Regions from separate parts of the Homo sapiens genome. Here region 2 is linked to region 1. A link means that fine-mapping ties the variant in region 1 to the expression of a gene that starts in the linked region. Tissue or cell type: substantia nigra. Region 1 holds a variant in brackets; the other region holds the start of a gene. All regions are shown on one strand. Distances are between the middles of the regions.

What was found. PIP is the estimated chance that this variant, and not a neighbour inherited with it, causes the effect.
Region 2: ACP6 starts here. The variant in region 1 is fine-mapped to the expression of ACP6 in substantia nigra (GTEx, PIP above 0.99).

What each region holds. Positions count from the first base shown.
Region 1 is chr1:146,919,631-146,927,687 of GRCh38, forward strand. No RefSeq gene overlaps it. Among named protein-coding and RNA genes, the nearest start is that of NBPF12, 15 kb to the right of the region's middle. The variant C/G (reference allele first, on the strand shown) is at 3,119.
Region 2 is chr1:147,666,330-147,674,386 of GRCh38, forward strand. It overlaps ACP6 (acid phosphatase 6, lysophosphatidic), which reads right to left and starts at 4,195. Exons shown (of 10, transcript NM_016361.5): 1 at 3,501-4,195. The coding sequence starts at 3,719. RefSeq lists enhancers at 3,043-3,986, 3,198-3,257, 3,898-4,147, 4,588-4,657.

The sequences.
Region 1 (8,057 bases):
TACAATTATAGAAAATGTAGCTAGAAAATTTTAGATCCTCAATAGCAACCCTTCCAAATGCATTATTACAGTAATAAAGCCACTGAAGCCTTGAATAGTTTAAGACTTGTTGTAGGTCCCAAAACTAGCAAGTGGCAGGATTAGACCTAGAACTCAGATCTCCTGCCCAAACAGTACTCTTTCTACTGTATTATATATTTTATGAGCGACAGTTGAGACAGTGAACAAGCTTAAGTTTATCTGGGCTTAGGGAAGATGGGGATAGACGAAGAGCCCTCTGAACATTAGAGAAAGGAATGATGGAGGAAGTCAGGAGTATTTGATTTTGAAAAGGAGATGATATGTGGCTTATGACTTCAAAGGAAATAAATATAACACAAAACACAAACTTTTCTTGCCTCCCTCTGTCACCTCAGAAGGGGTTTGGTGTTGGTGAAGAGATACTGTAATGTGATAATGAGTCTAAGAAGAGGACTTAGGTTGAGTCTATTTGGGTTATTTGGCTGGTCCTGTGCTCTGGATTTTCCTTCTGTTCACTTTTATTGAGTTTTACTAAGAAGCCATCTGGTAAAATATTTTAGACTTAGGTTGATATTTAACATATAGGGCAGGCTGGTTTAAGTGAATACCCAGCCAACAAATAATAAGATAAGAAAATAACCCAAACAGCATCATATTTTATTGTTTCCTGATTGAAATCAAGATGCTGGTTAGTTATCTTTTAGTCTAAAAATGTAATTTTGGAGGAACATCAGCTCAGAAAAGCTCCAGCATAAGGAAATAGGTCAGCTTTTCTTCCAACATCAAGGATTTCCAAATTCAGCCCAGAAGACTTAATAAAATGTACCTAAGGGAAGCAGAAGACAGTGAAACTGGAGTTCAGCTTCCATGAACATGGATACACCCTTTGATCCCTATGTTTCCTATGACCCTCTGGGCAGAGCAATCAGGCAGCTAGTCATCTATGTAGGATTCAGTTTGTCATTAAGCTTTTTTCTTAACAGTACATAATAAACACCTGATGAAGTTTTGAGATTAGATCTCGAAGAATGCCTGATCCTTGTGATTTCTGAAGCTTATATGGGAGGGTGTCCAGGTGTTTTTAAGGACTATATTGCTCTCATCCATTTCACCCCTTTCCTCACATGTCTTTTTCTGCCAAGGAGTTGAGTGTGGTTGTAGATTATAATTTAATAATTGTCAAACATTCTGTAGACAGAGTTGTTAGCTCCATTTTGAAAATAGCACCTGAAAAATAATTACTGAGGTTCACACACAGAATTTCTCTTTAAATTGGCAAATGATTTTTGTGCATTTACTTGCTGGCTTGCATAATCCTTAAGTTTTAGAAATGTTGACACTGGACTGTGCCTACATAACCTTCAGCCCTTTACACATGGTATCATTGGTCCTTTGATACATACATGTTTACTATGATGGTCTGGGTGATATTCATGCTTTAATGCTTTAAAATATGACCCATTCCTTTCTGACTGGTGGCATCCCTTCTACACTGACTTCAGGTGGGTTTGACAGTGGTAAATAGCTATAACTCATTTCTTCATATAGATATATTACTGTTTTTGTCTTTGGACTCTCTTCAATACATTTTGCCCCTCATGTTCAATTTTATTACCTGTTTAGGTATCATGTCATGATCCCAGCTCACTAAATCTATCTACTAGAATACAAGTTTGGTGTTCATGTACTGATCATGTATTTGGGTCTTATTGATCATGCTTTTTCTCGACTTTGGGTGATTCTCAAGTTGAATGTAATTATCCATACTAGGAATGCCACTAATAAGTAGGTTAATTCTACTGCTTTCTAGAGTTTTACTCCAGTTTTAAAATTGATGCCATCAGGACAGCATTCCCTTTTCTTTTCTTTCCTTCTTTTTTTTTTTTTTTTTTTTTTTTTTTTTTTTTTTTGAGACGGAGTCTTGCTCTGTCGCCCAGGCTGGAGTGCAGTGGCGCGATCTCCGCTCACTGCAAGATCCGCCTCCCGGGTTCACGCCATTCTCCTGCCTCAGCCTCCCGAGTAGCTGGGACTACAGGTGCCCGCCACCACGCCCGGCTAATTTTTTGTATTTTTAGTAGAGAAGGGGTTTCACCGTGTTAGCCAAGATGGTCTCGATCTCCTGACCTCGTGATCCTCCCGCCTCGGCCTCCCAAAGTGCTGGGATTACAGGCCTGAGCCACCGCCCCTGGCAGCATTCCCTTTTCTACAGGAAAATAATCTGTAAATTTTTTTTTCCACCTACACACCGTGTAATAATATATGGCCAAGAAATGCAAACTTGGTGCGTTACAGCTCTGCCTTATCAATGAACTTCCTCCATGGAACAGAGGTCGTGAGGCAGGCTTCGGTCATCCTCGTGGTTTCAGGGCATGGTTATTTTGCCAAACCCGCAAAGTGGTCTGAAGCAGTGATTACCAGGCCTAACTTCTCTCCTGAAGAAGCTGGGAAGTGTTCACAAAATATAGATCCTCCAGCTTCAACCTGATTAACCAAGTCAGATTCTGAAGGTTCCCAAAATCTGAGCTTTGAAACAGCTCTTTAAGCAACAACGATGTTGTTGGATAGTGAGAAAAACTACTGCTCTAGAGGCTCTTGAATTCTGCGTGTGCATATGTGCATATGTGTCGCAGGCACTAAATAGTAACAACTTAGAATCAGAAGATACCCTTCAAGCTCATGTCTCTCTTCATGGAAACGAAGTAGAGGTATTTGTAGGTTAAGGGACATGTCTAAGTGCACATAGCTAGTCAGTGGAGAATTGTGAAAAGCAAAGGAAAACAAAAGCCAAGTGTCCTGATTCTTAGTCCAGACTCATTTTCTCGAAATTAAGCTATCTTTGATATTTTCTTAAAGTGCTACCATTTATAAATTCAATAATTTTCCCAAGAGAGATAAGTTACATATAAGTTAAATGTCTTTTTCTCCTGAGCATTAGAGCATAAAATAGAATTTGAAAAGCAATAGGTTAACTCAACAATACAGCCTCACCACATTAGTAGCTGACACATGTTAACTGATTATTGAAAAAGTCATTTGTGGCACAGGTTGACATAAGCTAGTGTATTGAGAGAGGCCAAATAACGGTGTGTAACTAACA[C/G]AGGTTTTGGAATCTTAGGCCTGGGATCAAATCCTGACTTAACTATGTGATTCTAGGCAATCCTAGGCCTCAGTTTATGTATCTGTAAAATGGGTATAATATTTTCCTTTTATGTTTATAGTTAGGTTAAATGAAACATGAATACATGAATGGTGCCTGGCACATAGTAACTACTAATAATTAATCTCTTGTGCTTATTAAATGCCAGCCACTTGACAGATTATTAAAACTCACACCAACCCCACAAGTGAGTGTTGTAATTATTCCCATCTTAAAATGAAAACTTGACACTCAGCTATGTTCAGTAACCTGCCTGGGGTCATGGAGGTATTTGGAAATTGAGACTGGAGCTCTGCCTATCTTAAATTTCTCAGATTCTCCTCTCTTATGCTGTCTTTCAATAAATGACAGCTGTCATTATTGCCCTCATCCTCACCCAGAACCCAGTATAATTCAGTGGCCAGGCACATGGCTCAGGTTTGAAGTCCAAGGAGCTGGATGTTTCTTTCCTTTCAATAAATGACAGACATGTGACCTTGAGTGGGCTCCTCAATTTCCCTATTCCTTGGTTTCCTCATTTGTAGGATGAGGAGGATAATCTAGTTTTAGGGTTGTTTTGAGGATACCTGGTAAGCTCTCAATACTTCTGCTGCTTTTTATGTACTTAGTCAGTCCAACATGCTAAATAAGAATGAATTCTGGGTCTTGTCTTGCCCATGTTTTCGAAGCTTCTACTAAAAGTTTTTGTTTTTTAGCACTTTCCCTGAATCTCAGGTGTGAGTGCAGTAAAGGTGTTGGCTGAAGGGGGATGGAAACAAACGTTAATTACACCTTCAAGATTTCTCCAGTCAGAGTTTGGTCCTTCTTCTGGTAGGTGGTAAACTCTCTTCAGTTATATGGCCCTGAAAATCCTTGAAGCTCCATATATTGAAGGGATAATGGGCCAATATGTGAACAGCATCTCACCACTCATCTTGTGATGTGCTTGGCAAACAAGCTCACAGCGACAGGGGCTCAGGATTTTCGGAATTCTATCTGCTCTGCAGATTGGAGCCCGACTCCAAAGAGGCATTGATAGGGGGAGCTGATGCAGAGATGACTGCGTGACATGATAGCCGAGATACTGGACAATTCACTGTGTACTGTCCGTTTAAATGAAAGGTTAGAGTTAAGAGCAGACACTGCCAGTGCTACCAAGGGATAATTTTTTGTATGCACGTGTGCTCATGTGTTTATATGCTTTTAGCTTTCTTTTTGATAGTAAATATAGGAAAAGACCTTTCAAAGACTATACATGCTAAGTTTCTGAGAGGGAAGAACTATCATTAAAAGCATAAAACATCACATTATATTTGAGTTCAGTAACCTGAAGTTCAGCAAGTTTTCCACAGTCTCAGGTTTCCTAACAAGAAACAATGCACGTGTCTACTTCTGTACTTACATAACACTTTATTCTGTGCTACAGAATAAAGTATTTTAACACCCCTTTATCTCTCTCCTTTATGCACAGTGTGCATAAAGATGAGAACATCATGAACCAAGATGAGGCAGAATGACAGCACAGGGGTGGTTTCCATTTCAAGCTAGCTGTTTTCTGCATCCTCCCACCTCCTTCAAGAGTTGCATGCTTGATTGAATTAACTAATACCAGTTGTGCTTTACATATTTGAGTTAAAATATACGTGTTACATGTCAACATTGTGCTAAAATGTATTATTGATTTTTTTATTAACAAGCACTGCTTTAATTTAGTACTGAAGAAAGTCTATGTTTATTGGACAGCAATTTTATACCTGTGTATGAATACCTGAGTATGTAGAAGAATCAGATATGTGATTAGCTAAACTTCCAAAGTTGATAAAAACTAGGTGATTATTTAAATTGCACAAAACCCTGTATTTTACTTAAATTTCTATAAAAGTAATAATGTCTTACATTTGCTTAGTGAGAAATGCTTTGCAGATGCCTTTGACATATATTATCTCCTTTGTTCCTCTCAAAATTCTTATGAACTAAGGAGAGAGTGACTATTGTCTGCATGTTTTATGGATAAGAAAAAGAGAAAGCATCCTTAGCACATTTGAAATGTATTACCTTTACAAAAAGGTAACTCATCATCACCTCTTTAGAAAGCACAATTCAATGTGGAAAGTAGGCCTACCTCTGTTTACTCTATGCATGTATAGTTAGTGTCCTGGTTATCTCTTGCTATGTAACAGATTATCCTAAAACTTACTGGCTTAAAACATCATTTTATTATGTCTCACTATTTTTTTGGTCAATAGTTTGAATAGGGCTCAGCTGGGTGATTCCTTTGTTCCATGTGGAGTCAGCAGAGATAACTTGATGATACCCAGCTGCCAAATGAGCTGGTCTGGAGATTCCAAGATGGCTTCATTTACAAATTTAGTGATGGGGATGGCTGAAAAGCTGGTCTTGGCTGGGACTGGCAACTAGAGTGCCTACATGTAGCCTTTCCAACATGATATTAGGGTAGTCAGGGACTCAGTGTTCCAAGAGAACTTAAGTGGAAGTTGTTGGTTCTTAAGGCCTGGATCCAACAACTGGCCCAGCATCACTGCTGCCGTTTTCTGTTGATCAAAGCAAGTCATGGAGCCCACCCAGATTTGAGGGGAGGGAATATCTGCCCTACCTCTTAATGGAAGGGTATCAGAGAATTTGTAGCAACCTTTAATCTGTCACAGTGCACATTTTGGCCATTGATTATGTTCCTTGCCTATGGGAAAATACATTCACCCTTTCTAAAACCCCTAGACTCTCAACTCCTGATGGCATCAGAACACAGGCAGCATCAAGATCAGGCTCAAGATGCAGGATTTTATCATCCAAATCAGGCCCACATATGGATGAAACCCTTCAGGTATGTTTCTTCAAGTATGGTTCCTCTCGACCTGTGGACTAAAGAAACACATTATTTGCTCCTCCATCCCCAATACACAATGTCGAGATGAAGGTAAGAAAAATGCAGTTGGCATTCTCATTCAAAAATAGAATGAAAAGCAAAGAGCAGTCCCTAGTCTGTAGTATTTCTGAAATCTTACTGGTCACATGTCCACATTCTTTTATTACATCTCAGTCCTGCTTCCTAGGAATTACATAGTAATATGACAAAATAATATAACTAATTATTTAACTACAATAAACATTTCATTTCTAAGCTCACCTTTTTCTATACAGTATTATACATGCATAAAACAAATCATTTGGCACTTCTGGCATTCCTATCAGAGATCCAAACCCAGCCAAATCCATCAGTTCATTAGGTATATATTCTATTGTCTAGATCACAACAGGCAACAGTATTGTCAAAATTTCTGCCACTTCATAACCAGGGTCACTTTTTCTCCAGCCTCCAATAGTAATTCCTGTACTATCTTCCTCTAAGTATTCACTAGAAGTCTCCTTCAGGTTTTTCTATTCTCATTAACAGTGTCCTCAAGATCTTTGCAGCGTTTGCTCATTGTCTGGTTCCAAAACCATGGCCACATGTTTTAGATAGTTATGGCAGCACTCCACTTCCAGGTATCAAATTCTGTTCTTATTATCTACTGCAGCATAGCAAATTGCTCCAAAACTTAGTGGCTAAAAATAACAATCATTTTATTATATCAGGACCTTGTTGCTTGGGCATTTGGGCATGCCTCTGCTGGGTGATTCTTCCGCTCCATTTCAAATTGACTGAGGACACTCAGTGGTTTTCAGCTGGTGGGTCGGCTTGTCAGGAGGGTCAGGATGGCTTTCCTCACATGACTGCCACTGGCTAGAAAGTGGGGCTCAGCTGGGCTTGTTGTCTGGAGTGTCTACACATGGCCTCTCTAGTAGGGTGGCTTTAGGGTAGTAGAACTTCTTACATAGTGACTAAGTGTTTCCAGAGAGAGTGTTCCAAGAGACAGAAAGTGAAAGCTACCAGTTTCATAAGGTGTAGACTTGGAATCTGGGCTGGCTTCACTTTTGCTATGGCTTTACTGGCCAAACAGTCACAGAGACCACCCAGATTCAAGGCCATGGGATGTAGACCCTATTTCTCTGTGGGAACAGAGTGAAAAATTTTTAGTATGAAAGAAAAATAATGTTTAGTTTTTCATCTTGAATTGCTTACTAGTGCTTACAAGGCTGACTGACTCAATGAACTAATTCAGGTTTAGGAATTACACATTCGAGCTTCTGGTTCCATATCTCCCATTGCTTGGCTGTTCTTGAACTGAGGTAAATAACCTTTAGGCTTTAATTTATATCATAGGCAAAACGGAGATGATGATAACTGTTGGCACCTACTGGTTCAGGGAGATGTTGTGCCTCTTTTTATTTTTTTTTAAATCAGTATTTAAAAAGTATTCTCTAAAGTGCTCTAGGAAGTAGAATAATAAATTGCCGTGACAAATTGGACCATTACAAATTCACCACATATGTTTTTATTAAGATAGAAAATTGGGTCTCAATATTGTGTAACATCAACAGGGATACGTAGGAACTCTAGTACTCACAGAAGTCTCACACCCCACACACACCAACCTGTGCTATAGCATACGCTTCCTCTGTCTTTCATGTATGGCAGGCAATGTATGTTTTCTCACTGAATCTTTGCCACACTTTTTGGAGAGTTAGGTGCCATTATTAACATGTTAATCATGTTTTCTGAAACATTTTTTTTTCCTGGAGTTTAAATTCTAACACATCTTTTGCATATTTATACGTAATACATCTTTAAAGAATCTAATGAAACCTTTAGTAGAGTCTGTAGGGGTTTTGTTTAAATTCTGTGGAAATCATCCCTTTTTATTTTTATACAAATATTCTTGCAAAATGAGATAAAAGCAGATTTATGAAGATATCAAGATGATATAACAAAGATGAGATACAAAATAAAAGCAGAGGCATTAGCAGGAGCTAGTTTTACTCATGGAAGCCAGAAGGAGGA
Region 2 (8,057 bases), 750 kb after region 1:
GGGATTGTTTCTCCTAGTTCTCTCAACACAGAAAGATAACCTCTTACCAAAGCACATTTCAGCGAAGGCAATTCTGTACTGGGATTGATATACTACATTCCAGGTAAAAGAACAAATCTACATAAAAGTAAACAAAAACCTCCCAGGTGTAGATTTTAAAATAAAGCAATCATATTAAACCTTGTCTGTATACTGGTATTACCAGGACATTTTTTAAAAGTTACTGATGCCTGAGTCCCAACCTGGGATAACCGCATTTGGATTATCCCCCAAAAAAGTGGGGCCTCCACTTTTTTAATGCTCTTCAGTCCAGATAATTCTCAAGCTTCACCAGAGAGTCTTTTACATTATCTGGATACCCCGGACCAATTAAATTAGAATCCTTCGGAGGGAGACCCTGGCATGTGTATTTTTTAAAGCTTTCCAGTTGACTCCAATGTTCACCACGGTTAAGAACCATCGATCCTGAAGAATGGGTGGACCTCATGTAATGCTTCTTGAATACCGCTTCTTTTAGCTGAGTTTTGGAAAGGTACTAAGCAATAAAAGATTCTTACATTATGCTTCCCAGCTCATCTATATTGTCAAATAAATAGGGACCCAAATGTCTTAATCAACAGTGAAGCTGGGGTAGGTTGGACTTTATTTTATAAAAACTGAGGAATCTCCCTGGGTGGAGGCCATCTTGACACCCAGGGGAGTTGAGGGAAGCCTGGAAGCAGTGCCAAATCTTTTCTTTTGATAGTGCATTTGGATCTGCTCTAATGATCAGGAAAAAAAATGGCCAATCAAGTTCTATATTTTTATTTCCAAAGCACAATCTTTTAGCAAAACAGGTTAAACCAACAGCCATTCAAGCCATAAGAAAACAACCCAATAAAACACTAGTTTTTTGTTTTTGTTTTTGAGATGGAGTCTTGCTCTATCACCCAGGGTAGAGTGCAGTGACCCAATCTTGGCTCACTGCAACCTCCGCCTCCCGGGTTCAAGCAATTCTCCTGCCTCAGCCTCCCGAGTAGCTGGGATTACAGGCGCCCACCACCACACCGGGCTAATTTTTGTATTTTTAGTAGAGATGGGGTTTCACCATTTTGGCCGGGCTGATCTCGAACTCCTGACCTCTTGATCCACCTGCCTCAGCCTCCCAAAGTGCTGGGATTACAGGCATGAGCCACCACACCCAGCCAAAACATCTAGTTTTAAATCATGCTACTTTCTGAGAATTTGTGAGATGGCTGAATGAAGTGACTTGTCACATATATTAATCTATAAACCAGTCAGAAATCAGGAAACATGTACCAAAGACAAAAAATTTTTGCCAGGCAGTCCCTTCTGACTATAATTAATAGCAGAACCAAGAAGATTAAAAAATCCCAATAACGGCCGGGTGCTGGCTCACGCCTGTAATCCCAGCACTTTGGGAGACTTGAAGCAGGCGGATCATGAGATCAAGATATCGAGACCATCCTGGCCAACATGATGAAACCTCGTCTCTAGTAAAAATACAAAAATTAGTCGGGCCTGGTGGTGTGCACCTATAGTCTCAGCTACTCGGGAGGCTGAGGCAAGAGAATTGCTTAAACCCGAGAGGCGGAGGTTGCGGTGAGCCGAGATCGCGTCACTGCACTCCAGCCTTGCAACAGAACAAGATTCTGTCTCAAAAAAAAAAATCCCAATAACAACCTCTATCAAATTGGATCTTGAAATGAACACTGGACAGAGACTATCCAGAAACAAGTTTTAAGAGGCTAATATTTGCTCATAGCCTAAATTGAAAGAGAGTTGGTTCACCCCTGATTTTCATGCACACAACTTTATACTAGAGAGCCGAAGACGTTTAAAGCATCTGTCTAAAGTCTGGAGAATATGAGCAGAAAGGAGAGGTAATATGCCTTCTCTAATTGCAAAGTCAGGCCATGGATTCAGATGCTATTTTGTGGCTACACAGATTGAAGATGAATGAAGCTGGTATCCTAAGCTACAACGGACCTTTCAACCATAAAGGCAGAAGATATCCATCACACACCCACTCTCCCTTAGGGATAAAGCCCTAAAAGAATCTAAATCTTTTCCTAGTGCCTTCAGGATATATATATATATATATATGGTACATACTAGGTCTAGGCCTACACATTCAAAGTTTTACTCTCCATTACCACTGATAATTTTTTGTCTTCTACGTGAATATAATATATATTCCTACATGTGATTCCCCAGTCCTTCTGTACCAAGAATAAATAGAGAAGAATTGGGGGAAGGGGAGCATCAGAGATGGGCTGTATACAAAATCATAAGGAAAATTTAGTGATCTAATATAAAAAGGCAAAGTAAGAGACTGAAAAAAAAATCAAAGAATCAAAATGAAAGAAGAAATCCCGGTTCCAGAGAGCAAGTGGTAAAGCCAGAGTAAGGCTAACTAGAAACCTGGTAATAGAATTAAGTGCCTTCCAAATGTATTTATTTATGTGGAAAATGCTTTAGAAGTTTAATTTCATGTGCGGCCAACCTTGAAAAATGGGTTTCCAGTTGTACAATGTAAAGACACAATCCTGAAGGTTTCTAGAAAGCAACTGTTATTATGAAGAGTATACCTAACATCAATTTTGGACAATCTTTTCGACCTCCTCCAACATCAACCTGGAAGACCAACGATACAAAAGCACTCCACAGGTGTAATACCTGGGAGTTTGGGGATTTCAGGTTGCCTGTTCCTCTTCACTAGGCCTTTCTGCTATAAAAAGTCACATCCAGGAAAGATAATCATTTTTTTTTAAACTATTTGTGCTTTAGTCATAATTATCCTGACAAAACCAGACAGATTTTTAAAACATTACTGCCACAGACTAGCCCATTTTAAATTTGTTCCGACCTCAGATCCCTCCCACTATAGGTTTAGTAACCTTAAATAGAAAAGGAGAACCCTAGAATACAACACTTGTTACAAAAAAAAACTTCAGGAGATCTCAAATGGCCTCCAGCAAACCCTGAGAAAAAGCAGTTATAAAGTTTGTTTCCAAAGGCAACGACCTCTTATCCACTGTAATCTCAGTTAAGAGTGGTTCCTATCACTAAAGTCCCTTCAGCCCTTCAGCTCTGACAAACCACCTTCAAAATGGTCACACAGAAGTGCACTGCACCCTTGTATTCAAGTTCACCTAGACCCTTAATAGAAATGCTGACCTGGGGCACTACTCCACACCTGCTGAATCAGAATCTGCAACGTAGCAGGATCCCCAGGCGACTCCCATGCGTCTTAAGCAGCGCTTACTGATGGCTGCGCCATCAGGGCAAAACTGGAAGTTCCGGGGCTGTCCTAACCCCAGCAGGTCCTTTGCTCAAGAGCCTGGGGAGTCACTGGCTACTGCTGTTTTCCCTTCTTCTGGACCCAACCCGAGCCCCGCTCCGCGCGAGTAAAGCTCTGAAGATGTGTGTCAGGGCGAGACTCCTGGCCTGGCACACGGTCCTCGCCCCACCAGCCCCAGCCCGGGCCGACCTCTCACCTGCTCCTCCAGCGGGAGCGGCTTGAGAGGACTCCGAGCCCCGTGTCGAAACACGACCTGCACCATTTTCAACTTCAGCAGGCTGCGGTCGACCGGACACTGGCCATCGGCCTCCTGCAGCTCGGCCAGGGCCACCCGCCGCTGGTGCAGGCAGTACGCCAGCGAGGTCAGGACGCCCACTGGGGTCCACAAGCGCATGCTGAACACACCAGTGATCATGGTGGTAGGCCCTCGCTGCCCTCCGGGTTGAGGCTGCAGGAGGCAAACACAAGTCTTCTGCGGGCGCCGGGGCTCAGCGGGCGCCCCCAAGTCCGCGGGAACCTGCGGATGCGTACATCCAGCCCTTCAGCAAGCAGGGACCGCTGTGCCTCCCGGCCCTGAGGGAGACCCCGAGTGGGAACGGGGGAGAGAACAAGAGGTGGCAGCAGCGAAGAGTCCCTGGGAGTTTTAACCCGGGTCGGGGTTGGTCGCTCCTGCTGCACACCGGGCCGGGGGAGATCGGATCCTTATCTTTTGCCCGACGAGGAACATTAAACTTGTATTTCAAGTTTGGCCTCCAGCACTCTTGAAGGAACAGGAGCCGGCCCTGAGTTCCCTGGCGGCAGCGGCTCCACCAGCAAGGACTACTCGATTCCACTTTTCTATAAGCAAGCTCCTACCCACCTCCTCACCTACTCAGGGACCCGTCCCAAGTGGACCCGCGCACAGGAGCACGGGAAAACGAGTCCTGTGGTGACACCTCGCCTGGAGACTCAGAGCTGCGGAAACTACAACTCCCACAAGGCTGCGCGTACCGCGGCTCCCAAGAAGTGGCTTGTACCCGCCCCCCTCGCCTGCGGGCCTCGCCCCTCCGGCCCAGCCAGCCGTTTTCCAGGCGTGGATGGCCCACGGACGTGCCTGGTCCGGCAGTGGAGTGGTAGTGAATCTGTCGGGCCATGGAGTTTGCCAGGCAGGAGGATCGCGAGCGCAGGAGTAGAACTGGGTGGTGGAGGGGAGTAGTTTGAGTCTAGTTTTGAATGTAGAAGACTTCCTTCCAGTCCTGGAAGCCTGGTTGCTGCAGCGAGGAGCTGAGACACCTGCCGAGTGATTGCCATTTGCGAAACACAGCACTAGGTGCTTTATATTTAGTCATTTACTACTCCCTTCTCTGTTTTTAAAAAAATTCTCAAGCTTAAGTCATTGTAATCATGTAGAACTTTCAGGTCACTGATGTGTTTACTTCCATCCAGAATACTTCTTGTGGAAAAAGCCAGGCCTTGCCTGTGGGTGTCCCAGTGATTAAGAACCTAAGAGGCGCCATGGCTCACGCCTGTAATCCCAGCACTTTGGGAGGCCGAGGCGGGTAGATCATGAGGTCAGGAGATCGAGACCATCCTGGCTAACACGGTGAAACCACGTCTCTACTAAAAATACAAAAAAAAAAAAAAAAAAAAATTAGCCAGGCGTGGTGGCGGGCACCTGTAGTCCCAGCTACTCAGGAGGCTGAGGCAGGAGAATGGCGTGAACCCGGGAGGCGGAGCTTGCAGTGAGCCGAGATCGCGCCACACGACTCCAGCTTGGGCAACAGCGCAAGACTCCGTCTACAAAAAAAAAACAAAAAAAAACCTAAGAACACAGAACAATGCCAGCCTTACCACCTGCTAGTCTGGTTTCTGTTGATATACAGGTATCCCAAGCCTGTGTTTCCAGATCTTTGCAACAGGACACAATCTGGGACCCACTATGTGTCTATCTCCAAAGATCAAACTGGGCCAGATGTAAAGACAACATACTTACAGAGCATGGCTCCTGGCCTGAGAACAAATTCTGTTCACCAAGCTGGAAGGTTCTGAGTGCTCCCCTCCCTGATGCAGGGAGGAGGGTCATTTTGGAACACTACATATTGTCACAATTTTCTCCCTAGCCCAGCCAAGGGACTCACTTTTCAGAGTCTTATTGTGTGTGCTGATGTGATTAAAAATCGAATACTGTTTGCTATGGACTCAGTTGTGTCCCCCGCCAAATTCGTACCCACTAAGTGACTGCATTTGGACATAGGACTTTTAGAAGGTGATTCTGTCAGAGGCATTTGAACCATAGTGACTCCATCTTGAATAGCGGCTGGGTAAAATGAGGCTGAGACCTACTGGGCTGCATTCCCAGGAGGTTAGGCATTCTCAGTCACAGGATGAGGGGGGAGGTCAGCAGGACTGGTATCACAAGAAACCAGTCAAAAAGACCCTGCTGATAAAACAGGAAGTGGTAAAGAAGCTGGCCAACACCAACCAAATGCAAGATGTTGATGGAAGTGACCTATGGTCAAACTCACTGCTCATTTTACGTTAATTATAATGCATTAGCATGCTAAAAGACACTCCCATCAGCACTATGACAATTTACGAATGTCGGGGCCAGCAGTTACCCTATATGGCCTAAAGTGGGGAGGAACCCTCAGTTCCAGGAAATCCCACTCCTTTCCCAGAAAATTCATGAATAATCCACCCCTTGTTTGGCATATAATTAAGAAATAACCATAAGTATTTTCAGTTGAGCAGCCCATGCCCCTGCTCTGTCTATGGAGTAGCCATTCTTTTGTTTCTCTTTTTCTCTAATAAACTTGCTTTCACTTTATGGACTCGCCCCAAATTCTTTCTTGCCCGAGGTCCAAGAACTCTCTCTTGGAGTCTGGATCAGGACCCCTTTCCAGTAGCAATTTTGGTTAAGTGAAGATATAAATGTGAGGTCCTAATCCAGTAGGATTGATGGCTTTATAAGAAGAGAAAGAAGGATCTCTCTCTCCACACAGGAGATCTGATGGTTTTATAAGTTTTTGGAAATTCCTCCTTCTTTCTCCTCTCTGGTCTGCCAACTTGTGAAAAAGGTGCCTGCTTCCCCTTCTGCCATGATTATAAGTTTCCTGAGGCCTCCCCCTGTCCTCAGCCATGCAGAACTGTGAGTAAATTTACTCCTTTGTTTATAAATTGTAGTATCTTTATAGCAGTGTGAAAACGGACTAATACAGCAATGGTCCTGTCAGGGCTCATGTGTCCTGTTGGAGGGGGAGTGTGGGGAAGTGTGGGGAACAACTTAGCAGCAGATCTCCAAAAGAAACCAGAGTGAGGGTGGAAAATAGCTGATTTCATGTGGTTGTTAAAAGCACTGTTTGTCAACACATGTGAGACAAACCATGGGGAGTCCAGATGTATTTTGTGTGTGATAGTAGTGGCAGTGAGCTGCAATTTAAAAGAGGCTGGGCCGGGCGCGGTGGCTCACGCCTGTAATCCCAGCACTTTGGGAGGCTAAAGCAGGCAGATCACCTGAGGTCAGGAGTTTGAAACCATCCTGGGCAACATGGTGAAACGCTGTCTCTACCAAAAATACAAAAATTAGCCGGGTGTGGTGGCACACATCTGTAATCCCAGCTACTCGAGAGGCTGAGGCAGGAGAATCGCTTGAACCTGGGGGCAGAGGTTGTAGTGAGCCGAGATTGCACCACTGCCCTCCAGCCTGGGCGGCAAAGTGAGATTCCATCTCAAAAAAAAAAAAAAAAAAAAAAAGAGAGAGAGAGAGAGAGAGAGAAAGAGAGAGACTGGAAGTCCTGACCCAGGGTAGGACCGTGTGGGTGGGGGTGTTAGGGTGGTTGCAGGAAGCAGGGGAACACTGAGTAGCTGTTATTTTGACCCTGGTTTTAAACTACCAGGCAGGGATGGCTCGGGAAATAAGCCCTTTCCCAGCCAAATTGTCTTCAGAGGATTGCATTTAATATTATGTAAAAACTCAGTTTTAATAATGAGATTAGATAAGAAACAACCACATTCACATTTTTTTCCCCAGTGGTGAGCACAGTGCCTGGCTTGTAGTAAGTACTCCATAAATACTTGCCAAATGAAATTATAGGATATATCATAGGAATGTTGTTGAGCCATTGCTCATTACATCATTTATTGCTTCCTTTATAAATCTCCTCCTGAGAAATTTGGTTTAGAGTGTTAGAATTAGAACAAGCATTAAGAAGTATGAAGATTACTTTTCCTTCAATTTTGTCTTGGTTGTCAGGAAGCTTGGTGCCTAATTTTCAAACTTACCTATAGAAAATATTTAGAATCTAGTGGCCAGTATAACTATGATCTTTCCCTCCAGAGTATTACTCTGGATTGGATGGGAGCAAAACTGGAGAAAGGACCGTTAGGAGGCTGTTGCAGCAATCCAGCTATGAAACATGTAAGAGGTAGTTAACAAGTGAGAAGGAGGAAGGAGTCAAGGATGACTACTCTACGTTTCTGGCTTGGACAACCTGCAGATGATGCCATGCACCTGGGAAGGAGGTTAAGCAGAAATGACCAAGTTAATTTTGAATATGTAGATCATAAGGTACTTAGGTATCAAGGAAGCCAAGAGAAAAAAGGTTTTTTTAAAAAAGAGAATGGACAATAGTGTCAAATGGAACTGAGAAGCCAAGTAATGTAAGGTCCAGTGTCCAATGGATTTAACAACAAAGTAATCTTCTGTTAGTTAAGTGAGAGCAGTCTCAGTGAAATAGTGGAATCCTAATCCAATAATGGGGCAGAAATGGAATGC